Regions from separate parts of the Homo sapiens genome. Here all the other regions are reported to be linked to region 2. Evidence: microRNA targets listed by miRTarBase, many of them from high-throughput screens and not tested one by one. Region 2 holds a microRNA gene; each other region holds the end of a gene's coding sequence.

The links. Region 2 holds the annotated microRNA hsa-miR-5680 (GAGAAAUGCUGGACUAAUCUGC, at 5,179-5,200, opposite strand). A microRNA usually pairs through its seed, bases 2 to 8, with sites in the 3' UTR of a target mRNA and lowers its output. Matches are read on the target gene's strand: a 7mer-m8 pairs with bases 2 to 8, a 7mer-A1 pairs with bases 2 to 7 and ends in A, and an 8mer does both.
Region 1: the mRNA of ASS1 is a reported target of hsa-miR-5680. Seed matches in the 3' UTR shown: 7mer-A1 at 6,634-6,640.
Region 3: the mRNA of SDHD is a reported target of hsa-miR-5680. Seed matches in the 3' UTR shown: 7mer-A1 at 1,408-1,414.
Region 4: miRTarBase lists ACP1 as a target of hsa-miR-5680. Seed matches in the 3' UTR shown: 7mer-m8 at 1,213-1,219 and 7mer-A1 at 1,663-1,669.

What each region holds. Positions count from the first base shown.
Region 1 is chr9:130,500,387-130,507,907 of GRCh38, reverse strand. ASS1 (argininosuccinate synthase 1) reads right to left here. Exons shown (of 15, transcript NM_054012.4): 15 at 6,634-6,932. The coding sequence ends at 6,887. Among named protein-coding and RNA genes, the nearest start is that of ASS1, 59 kb to the right of the region's middle. RefSeq lists enhancers at 1,233-2,079, 2,263-2,762, 5,952-6,246.
Region 2 is chr8:102,123,155-102,130,682 of GRCh38, reverse strand. MIR5680 (microRNA 5680) reads right to left here and starts at 5,251; the gene lies at 5,168-5,251. It also overlaps a transcript of NCALD not described here. RefSeq lists silencers at 6,347-6,406, 6,777-6,966.
Region 3 is chr11:112,094,102-112,101,629 of GRCh38, forward strand. SDHD (succinate dehydrogenase complex subunit D) reads left to right here. Exons shown (of 4, transcript NM_003002.4): 4 at 704-1,693. The coding sequence ends at 869. Among named protein-coding and RNA genes, the nearest start is that of SDHD, 11 kb to the left of the region's middle. RefSeq lists a silencer at 5,670-5,878.
Region 4 is chr2:276,148-283,675 of GRCh38, forward strand. ACP1 (acid phosphatase 1) reads left to right here. Exons shown (of 6, transcript NM_004300.4): 5 at 833-938; 6 at 1,080-2,136. The coding sequence ends at 1,157. It overlaps ALKAL2 (ALK and LTK ligand 2), which reads right to left. Exons shown (of 6, transcript NM_001002919.3): 5 at 6,964-7,028; 6 at 3,411-4,005. The coding sequence ends at 4,000. Among named protein-coding and RNA genes, the nearest start is that of ALKAL2, 8.2 kb to the right of the region's middle.

The DNA of each region.
Region 1 (7,521 bases), not on the chromosome of region 2:
AGTCTGGGCGACAAGAGTGAGACTCCATCTCAAAAAAAAAAAAAGTGTATATATATATATATATATATATATATACACACACACACACACACACACACACACACACATATATGGGCTGGGCAGGTGGCTCACGCCTGTAATCCCAGCACTTTGGGAGGCCGAGGTGAGTGGATCACTTGAGGTCAGGAGTTCGAGACCAGCCTGGCCAACGTGGTGAAACCCCGTCTCTATTAAAAATACAAAAATTAGCTGGATATGGTGGTGCACACCTGTAATCCCAGCTACTCAGGTGGCTGAGGCCGGAGAATTGGTTGAACCCAAAAGGCGGAGGCTGCAGTGAGGCAAGACGGCACCACTGCTGCACTCCAGCCTGGGTGACAGATGGAGACTGTCTCAAAAAAAAAAAAAAAAAGTATATGGAAAAGTAAAGGACTCAGAATAGCCAAAACAGTCTTAAAAGAATGAGGTTTAAGATTTACTATAGGCGCTTTTTTTTTTCCCTCTCCCTCTCCCTCTCCCTCTCCCTGTCCCTCTCCCTGTCCCTCTCCCTCTCCCCTCTTTCCACGGTCTCCCTCTGATGCCGAGCCGAAGCTGGACTGTACTGCTGCCATCTCGGCTCACTGCAACCTCCCTGCCTGATTCTCCTGCCTCAGCCTGCCTAGTGCCTGCAATTGCAGGCGCGCGCCGCCACGCCTGACTGGTTTTCGTATTTTTTTGGTGGAGACGGGGTTTCGCTGTGTTGGCCGGGCTGGTCTCCAGCTCCTAACCGCGAGTGATCCGCCAGCCTCGGCCTCCCGAGGTGCTGGGATTGCAGACGGAGTCTCCTTCACTCAGTGCTCAATGGTGCCCAGGCTGGAGTGCAGTGGCGTGATCTCGGCTCGCTACAACATCCACCTCCCAGCAGCCTGCCTTGGCCTCCCAAAGTGCCGAGAGTGCAGCCTCTGCCCCGCCGCCACCCCGTCTGGGAAGTGAGGAGCATCTCTGCCTGGCCGCCCATCGTCTGGGATGTGAGGAGCCCCTCTGCCTGGCTGCCCAGTCTGGAAAGTGAGGAGCGTCTCTGCCCAGCCGCCACCCCATCTAGGAAGTGAGGAGCGCCTCTTCCCGGCCGCCTTCCCATCTAGGAAGTGAGGAGCGTCTCTGCCCGGCCGCCCCGTCTAAGTGAGGAGACCCTCTGCCTGGCAACCGCCCTGTCTGAGAAGTGAGGAGCCCCTCCGCCCAGCAGCCGCCCCGTCTGAGAAGTGAGGAGCCCCTCCGCCCGGCAGCCACCCCGTCTGGGAAGTGAGGAGCGTCTCCGCCCGGCAGCCACCCCATCCGGGAGGGAGGTGGGGGGGTCAGCCCCCCGCCTGGCCAGCCGCCCCGTCCGGGAGGGAGGTGGGGGGGGGTCAGCCCCCCGCCCGGCCAGCCGCCCCATCCGGGAGGTGAGGGGCGCCTCTGCCCGGCCGCCCCTACTGGGAAGTGAGGAGCCCCTCTGCCCGGCCACGACCCCGTCTGGGAGGTGTACCCAACAGCTCATTGAGAACGGGCCATGATGACAATGGCAATTTTGTGGAATAGAAAGGGGGGAAACGTGGGGAAAAGATTGAGAAATCGGATGGTTGCCGTGTCTGTGTAGAAAGAGGTAGACATGGGAGACTTTTCATTTTGTTCTGTACTAAGAAAAATTCTTCTGCCTTGGGATCCTGTTGATCGGTGACCTTACCCCCAACCCTGTGCTCTCTGAAACATGTGCTGTGTCCACTTAGGGTTAAATGGATTAAGGGCGGTGCAAGATGTGCTTTGTTAAACAGACGCTTGAAGGCAGCATGCTCGTTAAGAGTCATCACCACTCCCTAATCTCAAGTACCCAGGGACACAAACACTGCGGAAGGCCGCAGGGTCCTCTGCCTAGGAAAACCAGAGACCTTTGTTCACTTGTTTATCTGCTGACCTTCCCTCCACTATTGTCCTGTGACCCTGCCAAATCCCCCTCTGCGAGAAACACCCAAGAATGATCAATAAATAAATAAATAAATAAATAAATCAGAAAAAAAAAAAAGATTTACTATAGGCTATAATAAGCAAGTCAGAGAGTTTTTGGCGTAAGGCTAGACACATACATTAATGAAGCAGAATTGAGAGTCCAGAAGTAGACCCATACCCATCAACTGATTGTTGTTGTTGTTGTTTTCTTGAGACGGAGTCTCGCTCTGTTGCCCAGGGTGGAGTGCAGTGGTGCGATCTTGGCTCACTGCAACCACTGCCTTCCGTGTTCAAGTGATTCTCATGCCTCAGCCTCCCAAGCAGCTGGGACTACAGGCTTGCGCCACCATGGCCGGCTAATTTTTATATTTTCAGCAGAGATGGGGTTTCACCATGTTGGCCAGGCTGGTCTCCAACTGTTGACCTCAGGTGATCTGCCTACGTTGGCCTCCCAAAGTGCTGGGATTACAGGGGTGAGCCACCATGCCTGGCCTAATCAATTGATTTTTGACAAAGATGCTAAGGTAATATAATAGGAAAAAGACTTTTTAAGAAACGGTGCTGGAACAGCAAAACATCAGTATTTTCAAAAAATAAACTTTGATCCTGAATCACAACCTACACAGTAATGAACTCGAAATGGAGCAAGGACCTACTTGTAAATGTTAATAAAATTTTTTCAAAGAAATAAAAGCTGGGCCTGGTGGGGTGGCTCATGCCTATAATCCCAGCACTTTGGGAGGCTGAGGTGGATGGGTCGTTTGAGGTCAGGAGTTTGATACCAGCCTGGCCAAATGGTGAAACTCCATCTCTACTAAAAAACACAAAAATTTGCCAGCGTGGTGGTGGGGGCCTGTAATCCCAGCTACTCGGGAGGCCGAGGCAGGAGAATCGCTTGAACCCAAGAGGCAGAGGTTGGGGTGAGCGGAAATCACGCCACTGCACACCAGCCTGGGTAACAGAGTGAGCTTCTGTCTCAAAAAACAAAAACAAAAACAAAAAAAACTGAAAGAATTAATCACTGCACTAGAAGAAATACTTTTAAAAGTTCTTCAACAGAAGGAAAATGATATATATAGAAACTTTGTCTATTCAATGGAATGAAGGGCATCAGAAAAAGAAATATATGGATAAATATAAGATAAACTCTTTTCTTATTTTTAATCTTTATTTATTATTATTATGATTTTTTGAGGCAGAGTCTCATTCTGTCACCCAGGCTGGAGTGCAGCGGTGCAATCTCAGCTGTTTATTTTTATTTTTTGAGACAGAGTCTTGAGATGTTGCCCAGCCTAGGGTACAGTGCTGTGATCACACCTCACTGCAGTCTCTACCTCCCAGGCTCATGCGATCCTCCCACCTCAGTCTCCTGAGTAGCTGGAACCACCAGCATGTGCTACCACACTTGGCTAATTTTAAAATTTTTTGTAAAGATGGGGTCTCCCTATGTTGCCCAGGCTGGTCTTGAATCCCTGGGCTTAAGCAATCCTCCTACCTTGGCCTCCCAAAGTGCTAGGATTATAGGCATGGCCCACCATTATTTTTCATCTTTTAAAATCTTTTTTTTATTTTTATTTTTAATCTTTTAAAAGTGATATTTGACTGTCTAAAGCAAAAATAATAGCAATGTATTATGGGATTTTGTAGCATATGTATGACAACAAAAGCATAAAGTGAAATGTTCTAGGCTCGTACTGTCGCAGAGTTCTTATGTTACACTCGAGGTGGCATACTATTAATTGAAGGTAGACTGTGGTAAGTTAAAGATATATAAAATAACTCTCAGAGAGGGCACTAAAAAAGCCATAACTAATAATTAAGTATAGCTAATAACCAATTCTTAAAAACATTCCATTAAATTCAACAAAAGGGCTGGGCATGGTGGCTCATGCCTGTAATCCCAGCACTTTGGGAGGCTGAGGCAGGTGAATCACTTGAGCCCAGGAGTTTGAGGCCAGCCTGGGCAACATAGTGAGACTCCATCTCTATTTATTTAAAATATAAAAGATAAATTCAACAAAAGGCAGAAAAATAATTTAGAATATGGAGAGAACTAAATATATAAATGGGGAAAGGTTAAGTTAGGGAGTATCAATGTTAACAAAATATTATGTAATCGCTGAAAATGTTTAAGGAGTTTTAAAAATTTATTTATTTATTTATTTTATGGAGATGGGGTCTCGCTATGTTGGTCAGGCTGGTCTTAAACTCCTGCACTCAAGCGATCCACCCACCTCGGCCTCCCAAAGTGCTGGGATTATAGGCATGAACCTCTGCGCCCAGGCTTAAGGATTGAGTTTTTAAATGTTATAGGAAAGCATTTATGATATGTTAAAATTTTAAAAATAGGGTGCAAAGTATATACATTAAAGCATAAATATATAAAGTTTATACTTTATTATTATTATTTTTTGAGACGGAGTCTCGCTCTGTCACCCAGGCTGGAGTGCAGTGGCGCAATCTTGGCTCACTGCAAGCTCTGCCTCCCAGGTTTACACCATTCTCCTGCCTCAGCCTCCTGAGTAGCTGGGACTACAGGTGCCCACCACCGTGTCCGGCTAATTTTTTGTATTTTTAGTAGAGACGGGGTTTCACCGTGTTAGCCAGGACAGTCTCAATCTCCTGACCTCATGATCCGCCTGCCTCGGCCTCCCAAAGTGTTGGGATTACAGGCATGAGCCACCGTGCCCGGCTAAAGTTTATACTTTAAAGTATAAAGTATACATTTATAACTATAAAATATAAAGCATTTATACTTTAGCCTAAATAACTGCAAAAATATTGTAAGCATAGGAAAAAATATATGTGCATTATAGGATGTTTAGCCAAAAAACAAAAAAAGAAAAGAAAAAGACATATGACTGATAATATACCAAATGTGGCTGGGCGTCGTGGCTCCTGCCTGTAATCCCAGCACTCTGGGAGGCCGAGGCCAGGCTGGTCTCAAACTGGCTGGTCTTGAACTCGTAGCCTTGTGATCCACCCGCCTCGGCCTCCCAAAGTTTTGGGATTAAAGGGGAGAGCCTCCGTGCCTGGCTAGTTATTTCTTTTCTTAAAGATGCAGCTTATCACTATGGTTAAAGACATAATGGCCAGGTGCAGTGGCTCACGCCTGTAATCCCAGCACTCTGGGAGGCCGGAGGTGGGTGAATCACCTGACATCAGGAGTTCGAGACCAGCCTGACCAACATGATGAAACTCCGTCTCTACCAAAAATACAAAAATTAACCAGGCGTGGTGGTGGGCGTCTGTAATCCCAGCTACTCAGAAGGCTGAGGCAGGAGAATCGCTTGAACCTGGGAGGCGGAAGTTGCAGTGAGCCGAGATTGCGCTACTGCATTCCAGCCCGAGTGACAGAGCGAGACTCCATCTTAACAACAACAACAAGACAAACGCACAAGATTTGGGGACTCAGCCAGGCCGGGGTTTGGTTCTTGGTTCTGTCACTTGCTAGCTCAGTGGCTTTTGGCAAGTCAGTTTATCTGCAGCTTCGTTGCTACCTCTACATTATGGAGATGAAAGTGTCCACCTCCAAGTGTGGTTTTGAAGATTCAATGAGATAATGTGAATAAAGTGTGTAGCGAAGTGTTTGGCACAAAGCTAATATTGAGTCATTTATTATTACCACGGACATTAATAATCAGAGGAAAATAAGTTTTAAAGGTAAAACTTCTTTTGCGAGAAACCCTCATGGACACAGGCAGCGGAGTGGCGAAGCGATCCCTGAGGTCAGGTTCTGAGTTCAGAACCAGGGCAAAGCACAGAGCAAGCGGCACTCAAGTCTTCCCAGTGAAGATGCTTTTGGTTGCAAGGAGCAGAAACTCTCTCACTGAGCTGGAGTCCTGAATTCGTTATGATATCAGGTGTCAGGGAAACCAGGCCAAGAGATGCCACCAGCTTTCATGAAGCACCAGTACAGAAATATGGACGCCAATACCATGACCCTCTCTTCCCATCTCTTCCCTCTCCTTTCCTTCTACACCTGCTCTGTGCCCCAGGTCCACAGCATCCCAGCGGTGAGTGCCTGTGTTACATGTCCTCACTTCGGCCACGTGCCGAGGCCCAATTCCTGCGGGTTCTGATTGGCCAGCTCGAGTCAGGTGTCCATCCACGGTCCAATCAGATATGACCAAGGGGGGCCAGGGCCACACTACAAACATGGCTGCTTTAGGGCCTGGTTTGTGGACAATGAGAAATGCTGCCAAGTTCCGGGCTTGCTCTTTTCTCCTCTCTGCTCAGGCCTCTCCCTCCTCCTTCATGATTTAGGCTGCTTTAGGCCATGCAGCTGTGGTAAGTGTCCTAGGGTCACTCATGGCCACCCTCTATAGAAGCTCCCTGTGGGCTGTGAGTAAAAGTGATGTCCAGAGAAAGGGCTGTGCGTTGATGCCCCCAAAGGGCATTCCCTGAATTTTATTTGGTTTCCTGACATTTGCCACAGGACCACAGTTGGTGACAGATTCCCAGGATGCTGGCTAGGATCGGACCCAGGCGGCACTTCTGGATTCCTAGTTTTTGCTGGAGAGGGGTCGACTGCCAGATTAACAGGCTGTCTGGCAAATGGCGGCCTTCGGCAGCACTTAGGTCCGAAAACACAAAGGTTGGCCTAAGAAAACCATAATTAACTACACACACACACACACACACACACACACACACACACACACACACACTCACTAGAAATAAAAGACTAGTGTCTCTTTTAATTGTCATTTTTATAGCTCCCCACCGCAGCTGCCCCCCACCCTTCCCTTCGATGACAACGTTTGCAGGCTTCAGGGGGACCAGGGAACAAAGCTGGGGCCTGGCAGCCCCACTACGCTGCCAGCCGGGGAGAACAAGTCACAATTACAAATTATCACAACAATTAGCGCCTGTACTTGGGGGATCTGCAAATTGAGGAGGCCCCAGCTCCTCATTGTACACGGGTCTATTTGGCAGTGACCTTGCTCTGGAGACGATGATATTCCTTCAGCCTGTAAACCAGATTCAAAACAAAGAAAAATGTAAATTAACAATAACAACACACACTGGGTTCAATTAATTCAGGCAGAGCTGGGGTGGCTGGGGCAGCTGTTTGTTAAGATGTGTGTGAAGTTGCCTTTTTTTCTATTCCCTCTCCCGCCCTGGCCCCTCCTGCCCTCCAATCAGGATAATGTAATTAATTTATCTTAGGGGGAAAACATTGTTTGTCATTGTTGAAGACAAAGCGTTTAACTGGCAATAGGAGAAATGAAGAGGCCACTATGTAAGCCCTGTTTGTTCTGGGCCATTTAAAAGGGTTTATAGAGTCATAAAATACAAACAGAGGGCGCAGGAGGCAGGGGAGGTGGAGGTGACGGAGGGGAAGGGAGAGGACCCTGGGCAGATGGGCGGGCTTCAACATCTCTCGGGGCATGAGGTGCCTCCAGGGACAAGAGACTGGCTCTGGGAGAAAATGATGGCTCTGTGCCCAGGGCATGTTGTTAGCAAGAGGAGACTGACTTGCATCTTCTTCTAGACTCCAATCCCCATGAGAAGGGAGCTGGTGATGGAGAACCCACAGCAGGACAGGCCCTCCGGACT
Region 2 (7,528 bases):
CGGGTATACGATGTGTAATGATCAAACCAGAATAATTAGGATATTCATCACCTCAAACATTTATCATTTCTTTGTGTTGGGAACATTTCAAATCTTCTCTTCTAATGATTTTGAAATATATAATAAATTATTGTTAACTATAGTCACCCTACTGTGCTATCGAACACTAGAACTTATTACTTCTATCTAAGTGTGTTTTTGTACCTATTAACCAGCCTCCTTTCATACTCCTCCCCTTCCCAGCTCTGGTAACCACCATCTACTCTCCACTTCTATGAGTTTGATTGCTTTAGATTCCACATATAAGTGAGAACATGTGGTATTTGTCTTTCTGTGTCTGGCTTAGTTCACCTAGCATAATGTTCTCCAATTCCACCTACATTGCTACAAATGACAATATTTCATTCTTTTTTTTGGCTGAATAATATTTTATTGTGTATATATACCACATTTTCTTTATTCATTGATCCATTGACAGACACTTGGGTCGATTCCATACCTTGGCTATTGTGAAATGGTGTTGCAGTAAATATAGGAGTGTAAGTATCTCTTTGATTTACTGATTTCCTTTTTTTTGGATATGTTCCCAGCAGCTGGATCATATAGTAGTTCTATTTTTCATTTTTTGAGGAACCTCCATGCAGTTTTCCATAGTGGTTGTACTAATTTATATTTCCACCAGCAGTGTATTAGCATTCCCCTTTTCTCCCCATCCTTGCCAGCATCTGTTATTTTCTGTCTTTTTGATATATATAGTTTAGCTATATATATCATAGTTATACACTTACCATGGGATCTAGCAATGCCAGTCCTATATATTTGACCAAATGGAATAACAGCTTGTATTCACAGAAAAAACTGTAGGCAATTATTTTAGTAGCTTTATTAATAATTGCCCCAAACTGGAAATAACCTAACTTTCCTTCAACTGGTGAATGAATAACAACCTATGGTACATTCATACCATAAAAAGGAATAAATCATTGATGTACTTAACAACACAAATGAATAACACATGCTTCATGCTAAGTGAAGCCAGACTTGAAAGGCTACATACTATATGATTCATTGATCTGACGTTCTTGAAAAGAAAGAACCACGGAGGCAAAGAACACATCAGTGATTGCCAGGGGCTAGGGTTAGGGCAAAGGCTTCACTACAATGGGCAGTAACATTTTTGGAGGGGTGACAGTGCTCTGAATTCTGATAGAAATGATGGCTACTCAACCGTGCATTTATTAAAACAAGCAGAACTGCTTATTAAGAAAGTGAATTTTATTGTTTGTCAATTAAAAAAAATACATTTCAAAGGAGCCTTCAATGACTTTGCATTGTTCTTAGAATAAATTCCAACTGAGAGTAAATTTTATGTTCTTGATCCCAGGTTGCGAAACAGTCCATGGTCTGGCCCTGGCACTCTGTGACCTTGTTTTTTACTCTCCCTTCTGGCCACTGTATTAAGCTCATTTTATGCATCCTCTAAGATAGATGATAATGCACCAATTTGCTAGAGCAAACCCAGCAGTGGTCTGTACTATCACTGTGTTCAGGGGGCCGGGTTGCTGCTACTTCTGCTACTACTTCGGATTGAGGTGCTCACTGTGGCTGCTGCTCCCAGTCCCTCAGGGCGCTCTCAGGTACAGCCAGCCCAGCAGTGCCTCACCTCCTGTCATATGCCTTGCCTTCCACCTTGGGACTTCCCTGATGTTGTCCAGGCAGCTACTTTGTGGCCACTCAAATGCAACCTAGGAGGGCTAAGTTAACTAATGGGAGACTAAATTGACTAACGGGAGAAGGGAGCCTGCTAGTAAGTTTTCTTTCTTCCAACCACACCAGTAGTCTTCCTCCACTGCCGACAGATGTTTGGAACTTCAGAAGCATTACATTGTTTCTCTGAAGACCATAGATCAGTGCCTTTCTCTTGGATCCCTCCTAAACTCTCAGTAATGCCCCCATACTGCCTCCTGACCAACCCTTGGTGCTCCTGCAGACTCGAGAGGCAATGCCCAGCCACGGAATGCACTTCCTTGTAGTTGCTCTCCCTCTTCTCCTGACTCACTTCCCTTTTCTCTCAGTCCTACTCCCCTGTGATTTCACTTCCTTACGCACTGTTCATGCCTAAACTTTTGCTCAGGCTCTGCTTGCGGGGAGTTCAGCCAAAGGCACCCCCACCAAGCTCTAGCACATCTGATTTCCTGGATTCCAGAATAAGCTGTGTATTTCCCCCCAACCTACCCCCAAGTTAGAGCCTTTGCACTGTGTTTCCCCTGCCTGGCTCCTTCCTCAGCTGTTCCATCAATCATTCTATGTGAATTACTGACATAGGCACTCATCTAATATATGTCTTATGTGCTCTATTTATTTTTCTCTCATTAAACTTTAAGGCCCACAAGAGCATGAACCTGTCTGTCTTGTTTAGTGCTATATCCTGAGAGCCTGGAGCAGCTCTAAGCACACAGGAGGCCCTTAGAATGAATACTTGCCATTGTTGGACTGGCTAGTCTAAAATCTATACATTCAGTTGCTTGCTTGACACAAACTTGCCAGTCAGTGCCCAAAGTTGACCAAATGAGGTGGTGAGAGAACTGTCCCAGCAAATGAGACCTCTTGAGGTGGGAGGCTCTGAATGTAGACTTACTGCCGGTTGTCTCAGTGTTCCCAGTTTTCAATACCACACTGTTGAAAGAGCGTTTAAAAAAGCAGGGCCCGGCCAGGAGGGGTGGCTCACTCCTGTAATCCCAGCACTTTGGGAGGCCAAGGCGGGTGGATCACCTGAGGTCAGGAATTCAAGACCAGCCTGGCCAACATGGTGAAACCCTGTCTCTACTAAAAATACAAAAATTAGCTGGGCATGGTGGCGGGCACCTGTAATCCCAGCTACTCAGGAAGCTGAGGCAGGAGAATCACTTGAACCTGGGAGGCGGAGGTTGCAGTGATCCGAGATCATGCCATTGCACTCCAGCCTGGGCAACAAGAGTGAAACTCCATCTTAAAAAAAAAAAAGCAGGGCCCAACATTCAGACATAAATCTTTATGTTCTTGAATTAGGCAAAGCCTTTTAGGTATGACACTAAAAGTACAAGCATCAAAAGAAAAGACAGATAATTTGTGTTTCATCAAAATGGAAAACTTTTATGCGTCAAAGGACAGCACCAAGAAAATAAAAAGGCAAGCCACAGAAATGGAGGAAATACTGACAAATCATAGATCTGATAAGGGACTTATATCCAGAGTATATAAAAAAATTCTCACACCTGGATAATAAAATGATAAATAACCAAATTTAAAATGGGCAAAGGATCTGAATAGACATTTCTCTGAAGAAGTTATGGCCAATACACACATGAAGATGACCAACACCATGAGCCATTAGGAAAATGGAAATCAAATGTTATAAGATACCACTCTATGAGAACACATGGAACACACGGACACAGGGAGGGAACAACACACACCAGGGCCTGTCGGTTGTGGGGGTTGGGGAGCAAGGGGATGGAGAGCATTAGGACAAATACCTAATGCATGTGGGGCTTAAAACCTAGATGATGGGTTGATGGGTGCAGCAAACCACCATGGCACATGTATACCTATGTAACAAACCTGCACATTCTGCACATGTATCCCAGAACTTAAAGAAAAATTTAAAAAAAGAGATACCATTGTACCTCCACTAGGATGGTATGATTTTTTCAGTGGCAAATAACAAGTGTTGGCGAGGATATGGAAGAAATCTGGAACCTTCATATAGTGCTGGTGGGAATGTAGAATGGTGCAGCTGGTTTGGGAAAAGGTATGGCAATTTCTCAAAATGTTCAACGTGGAGTTACCATGTGATCTGGCAATTTATATATATACCCAAGAAAAATGAAAATGTACATCCACACAAAAACTCGAACAGAAATGTTCATAGTAGCATTATCCACAATAGTAAAAAAGTGAAACAACCTAAATGTCTGTCAACTGATAAATGGATAATCAAAATGTGATAGAGCTATACAATGACATCGTTTGTTCATAAAGAGGAACAAAGTACTGATGCATGCTACAACATGAGACAGCCTTGATAACATTAAGCTGAGTGAAAGAAGCCAGTCACAAAGTCCTCAAATTGTATGATTCCATTTATATAAAATGTCCAGAATTGGCAAATCTACATAGAGAGAAAATAGATAAGTGGTCACTGGAAGTTGGGGGTTGGGGAAAGAAGGGAATGAGTGCTAATAGGTGTGGGATTTCTTTATGGGGTGATGAAAATCAGTTCTAAAATTGGCTATGGTAATAGTTTGTACAACTAACTGCATATGCAAAAAATATTAAATTGCATATTTTGAGTGAATAGTATGATGTGTGAATTATACCTCAGCAAAACTGTTTTTTTTTTAACAGTAGAGATCATTAAAGAAAAATCACATCAATAAAGAAAAGTAGATAAAGTGGACTTTAAAATCACCTCTCTCTCTGAGGAATCCCACCCCAAGCACCTTCCTAACTGCTTCCTATGCACAGAATCTGTCCAGACTACAGGTGACGAACCGATGACCAGGGGACCACTTGTGGCCTACAAATTCTTATTTTCTTGGCTTATAGAGAAATATTTAAAAAATATTTAAAATTTTTTAAAATATTTAAAAAATAAGTTACTAATATTTTTAAATTAGAAGAGTTCACATTAAACGTGAACTTCTGGCTTCTCTTGGGGGCAGGGGGAACCAAACCAAAATAAAATAAAATACCCCGACTTGATGGCCACACTGGACCCTCTTTTCCCACGTAGAAAAATGAGGCTGCCTTTTTCAGGGCCATTGTGCCCTTCTCAGTTTGTCCCTGTATAACCACTTAAGTTACTTCTTTGTCACCTGCTTTTATCCTTCAGGGACATTTGAGTTTGCAACACCTGTGCAGACCTTTTGCTGTATCAACGGGACGTTCCCTTAGGCCCTGCTTGATGATTGGCTAATCCTATGGTGGTTTCCAACCCTGGCCACACATCAGAGTCTCCTGGGGCCCATGTGAAAAAAATACCCATACAAAGCTGGACACCCCTGAACCCCGGATTTTTTTTTTTTTTAACAATTAGATTAGATTCTCTCGGGGTCGGGCCTAGTATTAAGAAAAAAGAAAAAACCAAAAACCAAAAAATCCAACTTTCCAATGCAAATTTTTGCTTGCATTGGATTAGCAGATTAGTCCAGCATTTCTCCTCCTGTGTGTCCAGGAAGGGAAATGCTGGGCTAACCTGCTAACCCAATGCAAGCAAAGGTTTTAGTATTTGATGATGGTTTAACAGCCTCCTAGATAATTTTTGTTTTACAATTGAAGGCAACCGGTAGAGCTAGGAAAGGGTGCTTTTGATTAGATGAAACTTTTACTTGGTGTTTAAATCAGAGTTGGCAGCTGTCTGGACCTCAATGTAACTGTCCTTTCTATAACCAGTCATGTTAAAAGATTTTGCAAACATTACAACGAGGAAGGCCAGGTCACGGTGCCTTTGCAGCCTTGTTATTTTTAAGCAGCAACTTTTTAAATTGATGAATTTGAGTTGCTCTTGAGACCTTCTGCGGGTTCTGGAAATGTCACCAGGGTTGACAAGCACAAGGAGTTAGTTACAGTGGCTTTTTGAGAGGCCATGAGTGGACGACACAGCAAGACAGGAAACAGGTGCTGGCAGCCAGCAGGTACTCGATAAATATTGGGTGAATGAATTGACAAGACATTTTGCTTCTCATTATCTCCACACGAGATGAAAAATTTGAGGGGAGGAAGGAGGGGCAGGAGAGGGGCCCCTTAGATGTCTTCCTCCGGATTTTTTGTTAAGCTTTTCCTAGACAGTTTACAGAAGGCTTTGGGTAGAGAAAGCACTAGTTAGACAAAAGCAGCCCCCCTCCCACCTTGTGGGCATGAAGAGTCCAGAGGACACCACCTGAGAAGCTTTTCAACTGCCTTCCAAGGCTCCCTTGAACTTCACTGCGGTAGAGCAGGGACCCCAGACCCCCCCTCAAATCGAAGCTTGGAAGGAGGTGCTCTAGGCTGAATCTGACCTCCCAGGACCCGAGGAGGCAAGCAGATGGCACCCCTTGGAAAGTAGCAGTGCAGGCTGGCTAGAGGCCTGGGCGGTGAGCTAGGACTATGGGGCACCGTGGGGACACGCCCGGAGGCTGCACCAGGGCAAGCGGGGGAGGGGGGGGGCGTCCACTGCACCTGCAAATCCCGCGCCTCATCTTGGCCCCCCTGCAACCCCGCGGTGAAGCCCACGCCGGAGAGGCTGCCTGCGGGGCTGCAGTGGAGAGGGGGTCTGCGGCCGCGAGGAGGGAGGCGGCGAGCCAGGCTGGGGAGGGGGGCGCGGCTGGCGACGGTGCTGTCCAGGGGGAGGCGGGCGGAGGGAAGGCGCTGCCGCTGCTGCCGCCGCCTCGCCCGAAGCGACACAGACGCTGGGAGCGGCCGAGGCGGTGAGTCGCAGCGCCTTCCCTCCGCTTCTCGGGAGCCAGAGCGGAGTCGGAGTTGCAGCCGGGGCGGGTGTGCCGGGGGCGGCTGCTGGGGGGGACCCGTGCGCTCGGTGCGCCGCGGGCGCAGGGGTGGGTTCGAGGAGCGCGCGGTTCTGGGAACCTGGTTCCAGCAGCTCCCTCCTGGGTGCAGTTCACCCTGTCAATTCCTCTGTCATTCCCCCAGTGCCTCTGAGGGAAAACAAAACAAAATTACAGACCTTGAGGGTGGGCGGCAGAAAAGGAGAGAGCAACTTTGCAGAGGGCCGCGCAGAGGCGCGTGGGGCCGGCGGGATGGGGCGCGCTGGGCAGAAGGGGGCGTTGGTGAGCCTGGCGGCCCGGGGACCTCTGGAGCATCCCGCCCCGGGGGCCGGGGCCGGGGCCGGGGGCCGGGGCACCCGCTGGATCCCGGGCCTGCGGAGTCTGCCCGGAAAGGCCACAGGAGGCGAGTGCGGGGCGTGGGCGTCTGGGGAGGGGGCCAAGGGAGAGGCCGAAAGGCGCTGGTTGAACACGGACGAGGAAGTGGTCTGCATTTTGGACTCAGGACCTGAAAGATTCGTGTCCCTTGCGCTCGAGGACTTGGGAAGGGTGTGCTGGGGAGATGTGTTTGAGTGTTTTTCAGTGCATACCGATTTATTTTTAGCTCCCAGAGAAGCAGGATGTGCAAAGTGGGTTGTATCAGCCCGGGAGGGGCAGGAGGTCTCCCTGTCCGCAGGAAATACACAAGTTTTTTTTTTTTTTTTCTAATGCTGCAGATGCTTGCTTTAACTTTTGTGCATGGAGAAAGAATGCCATTTGGCTCTGCAGAGCTCCTGCCAGGGTCAGTTTCTTCCTGCGGGTCTGTCGGAGGCCGCAGGCGAGGCGGCTGGTGTGCTGCTGTGCTTACACGCTAGCCCCGCAAGAAGGTCTATGTTCTGTTCCGTAGGGCAGCTACGGTGAAACACAGAAGTAGGCAGCCAAGGTCTCACTCTCTCAGAAGGAAACCACACAAGCTCGCTCAAAGTTTTCCTACTTCTGGCTGATTTGAAAATAACAGACCTAAGCCACTG
Region 3 (7,528 bases), not on the chromosome of region 2:
AAAGAAATAAAAAACAGGCCAGGCGCAGTAGCTCACGCCTGTAGTCCCAACACTTTGGGAGGCTGAGGTGGGCGGATCACAAGGTCAGGAGTTCGAGACCAGCCTGGCCAATATGGTGAAACCCTGTCTCTACTAAAAATACAAAAATTAGCTGGGTGTGGTGGTGGGCGCCTGTAGTCCCAGCTACTTGGGAGGCTGGGGCAGGAGAATCACTTGAACCCGGGAGGCGGAGGTTGTAGTGAGCCGAGATCGTGCCACTGCACTCCAGCCTGGGCAAAAGAGCGAGACTCTGTCTCAATAAATAAATAAATAAATAAATAAATAGAAGGAAATAAAAAACAATTAGCCGGGCATGGAGGCATGCTCCTATAGTCCCAGCTACTTGGGAGGCTGAGGCAGGAGGATCACTTGAGCTCAGGAGTTCGAGGCTGTAGTGAGCTATGATCAGGCCACTGCACTCCAGCGTGGGCAACAGAGTAAGACTTTGTCTCTAAAGAAAAGTCACTAGAAATAGACTTACTGACATACACACGCAAAAGGCTATACAGAATCCCCTAAAGAAGCAAACAGTGACAGTGGAGTGGCAAATGGAGACATTGCATTTGAACTTGACAGATTGTTTTTTTGCAGCCAAGTTATCTGTATAGTCTTCTAATTTCACTGTGGTTTTTTATTGATGTTATGATTTTTTCTTTTTCTTTAGGGGCCTTGGACAAGTTGTTACTGACTATGTTCATGGGGATGCCTTGCAGAAAGCTGCCAAGGCAGGGCTTTTGGCACTTTCAGCTTTAACCTTTGCTGGGCTTTGCTATTTCAACTATCACGATGTGGGCATCTGCAAAGCTGTTGCCATGCTGTGGAAGCTCTGACCTTTTTGACTTCATACTTTGAAGAATTGATGTATGCCTCTTTGCCTCTGCTTTGTCATGCCATTAAGCTCACAATAAGGAAGAAATAACAGATAAGTCCATTGGTGGACAGCCTTCTTCTCTTAATCACAAGATTATTTTCAGAATTTAATCTTTGAGGAAAAGGTTTGAGAGGAATTATATCTAAGTTGTGAGACTGAGTTCTATATTCTGGTGAGTTAATGGGGTTGCCTCCCAGCTTCTTATAAGACTCACAGTATAACTAAACATGATATATCAGCTTTTGCCTTTCAATTTATCAATCTCTTAAAGAGAATCCAACTTTATTACGATTAGTATATGATCAAACTTCCATATTTGCCTTGGGAATAATGGACAAAGGGAAATACTCTTAATTCATGAATAAAAACTTTGCAGAAAATTAGACAGTGTTTAATTTTCGAAAACTTCCCTCTCTAGACAGTAGATACCACCTACTGATGGTTACATATACTAGGGAAATTTTAAAATTAGGAAATGCTGATAGCTCATATTATAAATTTCTAAATCCTAGGAAGAAACGCTTGGAGTGCTTCTGAATATACAGAAGTTCCATTTAAGGGCAAGTTTCCCTGTAGATGTATCAAAATACTACCAACTGTAAATTGAGATTTAATTCCCAAATGTATTCTACTTGTTCTAAAACAATCTGTCCACAAATATAAAACTATAAGTAATAAATTGTTATTTTCGCACAATGGGAATCTCTAATGTGAAAATGTATTCTATGAAAATAATTTTTTTAAATAAAATGTTATATAATAAAAGTGTCTTCTATGCTTTTATATATTAGCTATCAGTAGTTTTATTCATTAGAATTAGGTGTCCATTGCATCCACAGCATGAAAACAAAATTGGGTTTTTTTTTTTTTTTGAGACGGAGTCGCACTCTGTCACCCAGGTTGGAGTGCAGTGGCGTGATCTCGGAGCACTGCAAGCTCCGCCTCCCAGGTTCATGTCATTCTCCTGCCTCAGCCCCCCGAGTAACTGGGATTACAGGCACCCACCACCACGCCCAGCTAATATTTTGTATTTTCAGTGGACATGGGGTTTCACCGTGTTAGCAAGGATGGTCTCGAACTGCTGACCTCGTGATCCACCCATCTTGGCCTCCCAGAGTGCTGGGATTACAGGCATGAGCCACCCCGCCCAGCCAAAATTGAGTGTTTAAATTTTCTTCTGGGGCTTAGCAGTTAGGTAAATCAGACACAAAGTACTGGAAAACAAAAAGGACTTGTAATAGGCAGAAAAATACCAAGTGTATAAGTAATTTGGTATAAACAGAGTATAAGGTTTAGTATTTAGGAATAAGAACTATGTCCAGATTATGGTGTTCTGTGAATACCAGCCTTTGGAATTCATATTATGTTCTATGTGTATTTAGTCTGGTCTAAGAGTTGAGTGTAAGGCATGATGCTGTCTTCTATCAATATAGAGTAACTGGGACTAAGCACATTTTACTCACCAAGGACCTTACTGGGAAGCTGAGGCAAAGGAAGAGTATGTGTTTATGAATGTGTACTAGGGGTTAAAGACATGCTCTCCTTGATGTGCCTGTGGTCTTGTAGAGACTCAAGTGTGCATTAGGGTTTAGGAAGAGGTGATTAATTCTGTTTTGGGGTGGGTAAAAGGTTTCAAAAGAGGGTGATGCCTGAATAGCAGTGGCACACCAACAGATAGTGGTGGTGGGACCAGTCCACCCTGGTGGGAGAGAATATATAAACAATATTCTGACATTGTTTAGAATTGCTGATGCTTGATGATGATAAAAAACAAATGGACTAAAAGTCAATTTTATTGTTTTAAAATTCTCTATAGACGATCCCCTCCCCACCTTGTAGTGTCATTCCTTCCCTTCCCTAGCTCTCAGTATACTGCTGCTGTAGAGTGGAGTGATGAAATGGAGTCTTCCATAAAGTCAAAATGGGGATGGCAGTGACTCTGGATAATATGGGAATCCATAGCTATCTCTAGTACCATCAGATCCTAGATATACAAGGCTGTCTAGTGCTAATAAGCTTCATTAGATGGTGAACGAAGTTGGAGTGGAGGCTGGTTGGGCACTGCCTGCCCCATGTCCCTGCTGGTTTGGTCATTAGGATGGAGCTGAGCTGTCTTTGGGAAGTCAGTAGGTTGCTGTGAGCTGCTGGAAAATGAGGCAAGATTCCGGAAGGGTGCTGTGGCTCATGCCTGTAATCCCAGCACTTTGGGAGGCTGAGGCAGTAGGATTGCTTGAGGCCAGGAGTTTAAAACCAGCGTGGGCAACATAGCAAGACCCTGTCTCTACAAAAATACAATAAAACAAAAAAAAGATTAGCCGGGCATCACTGGCAGTGGCATGTGCCTGTAGTTCTAGCTACTTGGGAGGCCGAGGTGGGAGAATTGTTTGAGCCCAGGAGTTTGAGGTTACAATGAGCTATGATCATACCACCGCACTCCAGCTTAGGTGACAGAGTGAAATCTTGTCTCTTTAAAAAAAAAAAAAATCCAAGGGCTAACAGCAATAGTAGTTTCTGACGGTAAGCAGGACATGATCAGAACTGTGCTTTAGAAATAATTTGGGTACCATTAGGTGGGTTAATAAGCTAGAGGTAGAAGGACATGTGAGGGGATAGAGACAGAATAAAGGGCCTGAACTTTGAGAGTAGCAGTGGAAGTAGGAGTCAATCTCAAAAGGTATTGTAGAAGTCAAAAACATTAATTCATTCATTTGATAGATACTAAGTACCTCATGTAATCAGCACTGTGCCAGGTACTGTGGATAACGATAAAATTTTACCTGCCTTTGAAGGGAATTCATAGTCTAATTGGGGCAACAGAAGAATGACTGCAATACGGTGTAGTAAGTGCAGTGATGGTGAAGCACGTCATGCGCTGTGATGTAACAAAGGGTGCAGTAAGGATTTGCCTGCAAGTTTCCTGGAAGAGAAGATTTGTAACCTGGGTTTTGAAAGATAAGGAGCTGACAGTGGCTGGGGAAGCTGGGATGAGGTGTAGGGTTGACTGGAGGATGGCAGATCAAGCAAAAGATGATATGTAGTTTGGTATGACCCAGCACAGGGAGGGACTGATTGTAGAGGACCTTATATGCCACGATAAGTAATTGAAACTTTATCTTTTTTTTTTTTTTTTTGAGACAGAGTCTGACTCTGTGGCCCAGGCTGGAATGTAGTGGCGCGATCTTGGCTCACTGCAACCTCTGCCTCCCATACTCAAGACATCCTCCCACCTCAGCCTCTTGAGTAGCTGGGACTACAGGCACATGCCACCATCCCTGGCTAATTTTTGTATTTTTTGTAGAGATGGGGTCTTGCTCTGTTGCCCAGGCTGGTCTCAAACTCCTGGCCTCAAGTGATTCACCCACCTCCGCCTCCCAAAGGGCTGGGATTTCAGGCGTGAGCCACTGTGCCTGGCCTGCGACTTTATCTTGACAGCAATATGGAGTTACTGAAGACTTAATTATGCAAACGGCATGATCCAATTTTTATTTTAAATAGGTTTTGCTGACAGCTATGTAAAGAATGGATTTGTGGGAGGTAAGCATGGAAACAGATTATTTTAGTGACCCAGAAAAGAAATAATGAATTGTGAAGGCAATTGTAGCTAGAATGAAGGAGAGAACAAATTTAAGAAATATTTAGAACTTAGAATCAATGAGAGTTATACTAAGATGTGAACGCTTGAGGGAGGAAGGAGCTTTGCTCAATTTTTTGTTGTAAATAGGTGGATGGGAGGTAGTGTCATTAAAGAAAAATGTTGAAGGAAAATTAGATATGGTACTGGAATCAGTAACTACTGAAGTTTTGGATTTGTGAGACGGCTAGGAAGAGATAGAATTTGTAGACTTCTATTTTTTGGCAATATGGCAGACTCAATTTTAGAAAGTATTTACTTTGATATGAAGCCTGTTAGAATGTTAAACAAGAACACCTTTAAAAATATTTCATTTATTTATTTGGGACGGAGTTTCACTCTTGTTGCCCAGGCTGGAGTGCAATGGCATGATCTCGGCTCACTGCAACCTCCGCTTCCTGGGTTCAAGCGGTTCTCCTGCCTCAACCTCCTGAGTAGCTGGGATTACAGGTGCCCACAACCACACCTGGCTAATTTTTGTATTTTTAGTAGAGATGGGGTTTCAGCTATGTTGGCCAGGCTGGTCTCAAAACTCCTGACCTCAGGTGATCCACCCACCTCGGCCTCCCAAAGTGCTGGGATTACAGACCACTGCACCCGGCCAAAACATATTATTTAGTTTGCAAAAAGAAATCTTCTGGAGCCAGACCAAAGTAAGTCTGCAGCTAGGGAGGTAAGCAAGTGCTTAGGGTATCAGTTGCCCCTAAGAGTATCTACTAAGCCCAGGTGGCCCAGAGTTCTAGTCTTCTTCTTCTTATTATTATTATTATATATATATTTTTGAGACAGAGTCTCGCTCTGTCACCCAGGCTGGAGTGCAGTGGTGCGATCTTGGCTCACTGCAAGCTCCGCCTGCCAGGTTCACACCATTCTCCCACCTCAGCCTCTGGAGTAGCTGGGACTACAGGCGCCTGCCACCATGCCCGGCTAATTTTGTTTTCATATTTTTAGTAGAGACGGGGTTTCACCGTGTCAGCCAGGATGGTCTTGATCTCCTGACCTCATGATCCGCCTGCCTCGGCCTCCCAAAGTGCTAGGATTACAGGCATGAGCCACCACGCCTAGCCATTATTATATTTTTTTGAGTCAGAATCACGCTCTGTTGTCCAGGTTGGAGTGCAGTGGCGTGATCAAACTCACTGCAGCCTTGATCTCCTGTGCTCAAGTGATCCTCCCACCTCAGCCTTCTGAAAGTAGCTGGGATTACAGACTTGTGCCACCATGCCTAGCTAATTTTTTTGATTTTTAGTAGAGATGAGGTCTCACTGTGTTGCCCAGGCTGGTCTCAAACTCCTGAGCTCAAGTAATCCACCTGCCTTTGCCTCCCAAAGTGCTTGCATTATATGCTTGCGCCACCATGTCTGGCCGGATTCTAGTTTTAAGAAGGTGGCACATAGGCCAGGAGAAAAGCTTAGGGCTCAAACCAGGGAGTTAGAATGAAGATTCCCCTAAACCAAGAACCATAAAGAGTTTTGCCCTCAGAGAAAGGGTGAATTAGAAAAAATGATATTTGCTCACACCTGTAATCCCAGCACTCTGGGAGGCCGAGGCGGGTGGATCATCTGAGGTTGGGAGTTCGAGACCATCCTGACCAACAGAGAGAAACCCTGTCTCTACTAAAAATACAAAAAAAAAAAAAAAAAAAAGGGCCGGGCGTGGTGGTGGGTGCCTGTAATCCCAGCTACTCGGGAGGCTGAGGCAGGAGAATTGCTTGAACCCGGGAGGCAGAGGTTGCGGTGAGCTGAGATCACACCATTACACTCCACCCTGGGCAACAAGAGTGAAACTCCATCCCCCCCAAAAGAAAAACTGATATTTATCTGAAAAAGCAGAGAGCAGAGCAATGTGTGTATCTTGCCTTGGCTCAGGTTGGAGGAAAGAGTCTCTTCTGAGAATGTGTGGCTAAGAGCCAGTCCTCATGCCAGTTTGGAGTCCGAGTTCAAGTTACCTGCATATCTAAAAAGGTTACATGGGGCAAATTTAACTTTGACCTAGGTTTGTAGGGCATGGTAGTCAGCACAAATCCTCACCAGAGAGAGAAGGGTTACCCCAACACAAGCTTCAAAAATCCCCATAAAGTTCCAGTGAACGTGAACTGTCAGCAAAAATCACAGTACTGGAATGTCCTGAGCAAGAGTCAGCACAAATAAACAGAACCATACCCACAAAGAATTCAGACCCTGGAATTTTCAGATACACATTATAAACATAAGATGAGATATAAGTCTAAATATAAGTCAGCTTTCTGCTCAGGGATCAGAAAGCTTTTGGAGAGAGTGGTATATACTTGATGTTATCGTCTCAATTCATAGAATCTTAAAAAGTAGATGTCTACTTAGGAGAGTTTTCTCCTCTGGACACCTGATAATGAGTGTCAGGGTCAATTCCCAGTGGGGCTGAATGTTCAGTTTCTGAGACCTAAGCACCACTGTGAAGCATGTATCCATGACTATGGGCCTGGAGCTTCAGAACGGTGTCTATGAGATTAAAATACCCAAATGGTCATTTCCAATGTGGTTCTAACTCTAACTTTCATCAGTGACTGTTTCTAAACTAGTCTTCCAGGCCAGGTGCAGTGGCTCATGCCTGTAATCCCAGCACTTTGGGAGGCCGAGGCAGGCGGATCGCCTGAGGTCAGGAATTCGAGACCAGCCTGGCCAACATGGTGAAACCCTGTCTCTACCAAAATATACAAAAATTAGCCGGGTGTGGTGGCATGCGCCTGTATAGTCCTAGCTACTTGGGAGATTGACGCGGGAGAATTGCTTGAACCCAGGAAGTGGAGGTTGCAGTGAGCTGAGATTGCGCCACTGCACTCCAGCTTGGGTGACAGAGTGAGACCCTGTCTCAAACATATAAATATAGGGCCTGGCACAGTGACTCACGCCTGTAATCCCAGCACTTTGGGAGGCTGAGGCAGGTGGATCACCTGAGGTCAGGAGTTTGAGACCAGCCTGGCCAACATGGTGAAACCCCGTCTCTACTAA
Region 4 (7,528 bases), not on the chromosome of region 2:
GTGCTGTTCCTCTGCCTGGAAGCTCCTCCTTGCTTCTTGGGTCATTCGGCTCCTATTTGCCCCTCGTGGGTCAGCTTAAATTCATTTCTTGATAGAGGTATTCTGCTGCCCTGTCATTAGGCCAGATTGTGCATTAGACTTAGGCCTGCCTGCAGTTCTCATTCCTGCACCTAATCCTGAGCTGTAAAACTTCGTGCATGGGAGCTCTTGGCTGTTCCGTTCCCACATAAAGCACGTACCTGACTCATCAACTCATCTGTCGCAGGTGCTCAGTCGAAATTTGTTAAATAAATGGAGGCGCTTAGTTAAGTTTGCCTTTTTCTTTTGTAGCAATGTGAAAGCTAAGGGTGGAAGTCTAGAGTGAAGCTGAGTTTTCAGCTTGGGCAGAGGCTTAAGGAATAAAAGATGGAAGAGTAATTAAGGAGTGGGTCGTGCTGTGGGAAGTGCTGTGTCAAGACACCTGAGGATGGAATTGGTAGCCCTCTGTTTTGGGACTGGTTCAGATGGTGTTTTGGGTTCCTTTCTATGACCTTTATCTCTGAAACTTGATTGTCTTAAAATGTATTTTGTGGGAGAAAATATAATTATTGTATATTTTGTGTAACAGAATCAGTGAGAATAAGCTGCTGTCGCAAACTGTCTTGCCTAGAGAGAGGGCAGTGGCATACAGCTGCAGAAGGGGCCACACGGGCCTGCTGAGTGTTCCGTTTCATTTCAAATTAGGTCATTCTGTCTTGATTTTGATATGGATGTTTCAGAACACCCTAGCAGATGTCCCTGTTTAACTTGAAACCATAGATCAGAAAACTAAGTTCATATTTCAATTTTACAGAGATTTGAATAGAAAAAGTAATCAAGTTAAAACCTGCAAAGCTAAAATTGAACTACTTGGGAGCTATGATCCACAAAAACAACTTATTATTGAAGATCCCTATTATGTAAGTACAGTTCACGTTTTAGGGCTAATATGAAGACCCAACACATTTGTATCCTGCCATATTAAATAACAGATGAGATTGTGTTAAGGATGTTTTTGTTATGCAGGTTTTGCCATTTTCTTCTTTTTCCTGTCCATTTAGGGGAATGACTCTGACTTTGAGACGGTGTACCAGCAGTGTGTCAGGTGCTGCAGAGCGTTCTTGGAGAAGGCCCACTGAGGCAGGTTCGTGCCCTGCTGCGGCCAGCCTGACTAGACCCCACCCTGAGGTCCTGCATTTCTCAGTCGGTGTGTAATCACGTTCCAGGGCCCAAAGCCCAGCTCTTTGTTCAGTTGACTTACTGTTTCTTACCTTAAAAAGTAATTGTAGATGGAAATCAGTTGTGTTTGGCAGGAGAATCAATAAAAATCTTTGATTCAGACAGCTTATGGGGTATTTTAAGCATTCTTAGACTAGTTGAACATCTCACTTTGCCCCAGTTACAAAAATAGTAGAACAAGCAACATAAAACAATGAAGGAAAACCTCACTTGAAGGCCCAGGTCAACATCTAAGCCTGTTGAGACTTAGATAATCGAGTCTACCTCTTCAGTAGGTTTGTGTGGATGGCCTGGAGGGCAGGTGCCCTCTGCTCCCCAGTGCTACCTCTCTCTTCCCTAGGGCCTTTTGTGGATTGACAGTAGTCCCCTCCGTAGGAGCTCACAGTCTAGATTAGAAGTGTTTTAATTTCTACACACCCATAGTGCACACTTGTATATTGAAAAGATAGGGAAGAGAGAAACATTTATGGAATCAGTCGTTGGCACCTTCAATACTTCATGATTTTTGTCGAGTTTACTTCATGAGGAGGTCAGCCCATTGGCTCCCATCTGAACCACTTTGCCTCTGAAACTTAATTACATCCAGAAAGAAGGACACTTGTATGCTAGTCTATGGTCAGTTGAGGAATATGACTGTTTTTATATGCACATGTAACCCAAATGTCCAATATAAATTGGCTTATTTTTTAAAATAATTTTAAAAGTTGGGAAAAGTGTTATTATTTGGCATGCTTAAATATTGAATAAGTATTCTTCATCAGCATTTAATAAATGTATAGGCAGATGTAAGGTAATTTCTGTGTATTTTGAGATAATGTCAAAATCATGAATATTTCAAAATAAACTGGGGAGTTATAAAAATACAACTAGAGATATAAATCTGGTGTCTGCCTGTTTTTTTATTGACAGGTAAGGAAGCATTTGAAAACATTGTATTGTCCTTTTTACATGATCTGTGATGTTAGGTGTGCATATTTTATCTTCAGGATAAGGAAGTAAAATGATGAAAATAAGCACATTGCTGCCCCATGTCATCATGTCTAGTTTCTGAAGGAAGTTTGAGGTTCTACAGCTGGAACTGTCCTTGCCCAGTACCATCCTCTGGACATGTTGCCTCTACGCTGTGCCCTCCTGTGCAGTGATGCACAGCTGCCTGGCCAGGACATCTGCACTCCTGACCTCAGTATCATGAGGGTCCCAGGCAGTGCCATGGGGAGGAGACACGTTTGATCCTTGACTCCCTAGTATCTGGAGGATAAGCTGTTGCCAGATGAAAGTGAGTAGTTTCCCCACTGTACCATGTGGAAGTGCCAGGCTGTCTTCATAGGAAGAAAGTTTGCAAACCCAGTGAGTCTTGCTCTTGTTGGAATTACTCAGACATACAGAAAACTGAGGGGATTAAATATTAATAGATTGGATATTTGAACATGAAATCCTTAAAACATAAAAAATGGGGAAGGAAAGGTCAAGTAATGAGCTGTAATTAGAAAACAGGATTAAATAAGAGCACTTCAAAAGTTACACCCTGTTCTCTTCATTCAGTAATTGCTTTTAATCTCAAAGTCAAAATTTCTTACTCTTCTATTCCTTTATGTTTGGAAATAAAATCCTATAGTTTTTCTTTAATGTTTATCTCTATAAATACAGATCCTCAAACAAATCCTAGGACTCTTGACTATTCTGTCCTTATGGCTACACCCAGACGATACCATCTGCCGACAAGGGCTCATATGAATGGAGAAACTCATTGCTTTGCCGAATTCAGCTTTTTAAATTGGATCCAATTAGATTTGTTTAAAATACATCTACATCTAAAATTCTGAGACTGCTTAGAAGTCTTAAGGTTTCTCCTAGTTAAGCATTTTCATGATTACAAAATCGCTTGGGAAATAATGGATACAACCTTATTTGGAATATTTCCCAGCAAATCAGGGACTATCTTAGGAAATTATGTCACCAATATATAGTAGCCTTTACTTTAAAAAAAATGCTAATTATCCCTTAGAGAAATTCTTAGGCTTCAAGTTTTCATTTGTTTATGGCTTTCATATTCTATGACCTTTTGCCAGTGTCATGATCTCTCAGTAAATCAGAAGTCACGAATTCCCAACAGTGAACCTGTTAAAGAGGTAGAGAGTCACTTTGAAGACTAGTCATTATAACAAACACTTCATTTATTACTTGTGTTTATTTACACTATTTACATATTGCACAATAGCTGGAATACTATTTTACATTTATAATACAAACGACCAACAGAATTAGCCACAGATTTACACTCCACTGTCTCTAAAACATGACCGAAATTTTAATTTTTCATGCCGTTCCAAATAATACTCTGAGAATTTAACAGTGAAAGTAATACAGAATATCAAATTATGTTATATGAAAATATACTTTAAGATTCTGCTTATGTTTCTAAAGAAATATTTTTTGCGATTTCACCTAATGAAGACAATGAAATATTCTGTGTTTTATAGCACTACACGTCAAATGTGGAGCATTCCTTTTGTGTTTTTTTTTTAAATAAGTGACAGATAACACTGTCAAGTACACTGATTTATCGAATATATATCTGCAAACTGTCAACAACATACAAAACTCAAAGGACTTATGGAAGAGTCTGTCTGCAAAAATAAATCTCTTGTCCATGAGGGGATGTGTATAAAGATAGTTCTGTTTCCCTGTTGGTTTCCAAGGCACTTCTCATGGCTCCTGGTGTGCTGCTCCTGTACGGTCTGCTCACTGCTGAAAACAAATACATTGCGTGTGATATGACTATCCACACTTCTTAATGTCAATTCCAGAAGACCTGTCACTTCAGTTAGGGGACACAACATGTTTATAAACATAGGCAGTCTCAGAGTGCATCTGTATTTCTCTGTGATCCAAAAAGTGTAGTCTATTGTATTTTTAAAAATACCTTCTTTCTGCAGTTGTTACATGGCTGCAATGCTAAAGCAATGAAAATCATCACAGATACATGTGGATGCTTTATTACAGCTTGAAGAGTGCTTAGTCTTACATGTGCTATCAGAATCCTCAGTAGTCTAGGCCACAGGGATTAACCTGGCAGTTCTGCAACCTCAGTGTTCACAGGGTTGGTAAAGCTAATAATCGAGATTAGACATTTGTTTCTAGCATTCTTTGTTGGAATATCTAAACCATTGGTATTCTATTTATTTTTAAAGAATGATAAACTTCAAGGTTACTAAGATTAGGCTGCATTTGGGAGAGTACACCATGTACTCACTACTCAAAACTCCATTTCTTTGACAATATTCCAGAGCTCAGGCTTCTGATTAACTGACCTGTAAGTCCGGACAATGAAGTGTATCTGTGACTGTTAGGGAGGGTTGGTGGGGACATTGTTCTCTTTGGCCTGAGGAGGTCTATTAATGAGCTTCAGAACGCGGCAAATGGATTTGCTCTGAGGTGAGGAGGGCAGAGCCCTTCCTGCTAAAGGCCTGCTTTTCTCAGGCTCTGGGCCTTTCTTTACAAAGACAAGGTCATGGTTTACGGTCTTGCCCTGCCATCCTTGTGTGTCAGGACAGAAGTGCATGTGGCAGGTTAACCAGCAGAACTGGGACTGCAGGGCCTGCCTGATGCCACACCGTCACACGAGTGTGGGCACCCTGGGACACCTGCCCTGCCCTCTGGTGTCTCACTGAGGTCTGCAAAGCACAGAGAAAGCCCGGACTGTATCTACACTGTGGTGACCAGCCACAGTAAGAGTTTGCTGTTGCTGTTTAACAATTTGTTAACACCAGTAACAATTTGCTGTTGCTGTTTAAAACTTTTGGAATTTGAAGAAATTATCTTTAAAAAATAGGAGTTATGAAATTATAGTTAACAGGGTATCAATATTTTAAACTTTACCTATCTCTTGGCCAAAATGAACCCAGTTACAGCTGTGACACCTGTGGCTGTCAAGCAGGTGGCCTTTTGGGGACAGAAGCTTGCGAGCCTGGGCCTTGTCTTGTTACCTTTACCTGCATCTCATCGTCAGTCAGGCTCTGATGTGGTTGTCTGGTGATGGGGAGAGTGATGTGAAGAGTGCTGGGGACTATCAAGGGGATTCTGCCACAGCTTTTCTGCAGGGCATCACTGTGGCGTTTGCAAAGCAGGACGTGCGCACGCAGAGACCCATACAGGAGCCTGAGTCCCACTGACATGACCACGTCCTTCAGTGTAACTGCACCTGCCTCCAGCAGCAGCCAGCGGAGGGGAGGCAGGGGTCGGCTAATGGGCATGTGGACGGAGTAGCTCTTCCAGTGGCTGAGACAGTGGGGAATTTGCTCTCCTCACTTGTAAGTAAGTGGAAAATTTCCAAGGATGTCCCTGGCCCATCTCTGGGAACACTGTGTTTAATTATAAAGAAATACCTAAAAAAAAAAAAAAATTCTCATCTCCCCTGGCATATCACCTTGGGTGACAGGAATGTACATCTGTTCACTGATTTAAACAGAAGAAAGTCTGTGTGACACATAGGCAGTGGATGAGCTGCTCGAGAGAATTGGAAAGAGCAGGGATGTGGGGAGACATTACTACACAGCACTTCCCAGCTTTGACTGACATTGACACCTTCACTATCTCCAAAGAAAAAGTGCAGTGAAACTGTGCAAAATGCAGTCTCAACCCGCCATTACCCACTGGCCTCCCTCCCCCAGTGCCATTCCTCTCATTAGCAGCAGTTTCTTCTACTGGGAAAGATGGAGTGGGGGATGCATGGGCAGGACCCGCCATGCCTCCTGCCGGTGTTGGGGTCATGCACACAACCCTTCTGCTGCTACCTAAATATTCATAAGCACTGCCTCTGCATAGAGAGCACATCTATATAGGAAAGAGCACTACCCTACCCTCATCCATTTTACATGAGAGAAACTAGAGTAACCACTATAAAAATACTCCCTTTTCATGAATGTGCTCCGGACAGCTATCAATGGACAGGAAGCCTGTCTTTCTTGTGCTGGTGTAGCCAGCATCTGGCAGTGCCCACATATACAAGACACATAGTAAGTATAAAATTGGTGAAATTACAGTTGCATCCTGCTGTCTAAAGTGACTGGATTCTGTGGCATTTGTGTCAGGAAAATAAAACCTTACCCTTCAAAACATCCGCTGATGGTTGGTGTTAAATGTTGCATATCAGCCCTCAAGGGGCCAAGGTGCAAAGTTTAGTTCATAAACGTGGTATGCATTTACATTTTTACTATTAGAGGCTGTGAAAAAAAAAAACCATTGATAGAAACATTTAAAGAGGATAGCTGTTCTTTATGAGCTTATGACTACAACTCAAACATGTACCAGATGTGATAATCTGAATTTGCAGGGACAATGTTGGTCATCTACTCACTTGTGTTAGTGAATGAATGAATGCCTCGAAGTAAACGGACAATTTTAGTCTGTTCCTGACTTACGCACTCAGTCACATGCTGACACTGGCTGACTTGCTGTGTTTCAGAGCAGGACCCACTTAGTGCCCGTGTGCCATGCAGTGAGCAGTTAACAACAGCTGCCGGGGCCCTGTAGACAAGCCAGTAGGGTGGCTTTCAGCACTGTGAGATGAGTGTTGTGCCATCTCTACTTAGAATATGGCTACTTCAGCCAAAGAATGAGTGTTCCTAAACTCCCATGAATTTTTCATGTCCCAAGCGGGATTCCCATCTTTGGTATGTGCTCCAGTGTGTGTCTGTCCAAGCTTACCTTATCCTCCATGCACACTGGACTGACAGCCAGCCGGGTAAGAAGCCTGGCGCATCTTTTATAGTCTACGGTGAAAATATATCAGACTCTTGTCAGTTACTTAAAAAACAAATAAATCGCATTTTTTTGCAAGTATATCAGCTACTAAAGCCATTTATTTCTTCAAATATCTGAATTCCCTGGAAGCAATACGGAGTCTAATCTGCAGGCATGCATTCTAAGTTGTTGACTTAATAATTTATGGTGCTTCAAGGGCTTGAGCTTCAATGGCAGAAGTCGGATGATGTAAGTGGGGCAGCGGAGGGAAGAGGGACAGACACGAAGGCTGCATGGCTGAGCTGGCTGCCCATTGCTTCTCTCAGAAATAACTTCATTTCGCTTCCTACGTGACAATCCTTCCGTACCCTTGTGCTACTTTCAGGTCATGTGCAGGCTGAATCCCAACTTGAGTTGACCATGGGACAAAGCCTTCTGCCTGTAAATTCTAAAGAAAGTGGGTCAAAAGTCAGGCAGCAGAGCAGAGGCCTGGAGTGGATGGCGAGCGGAAGCAATGTGCCCGTTTCTA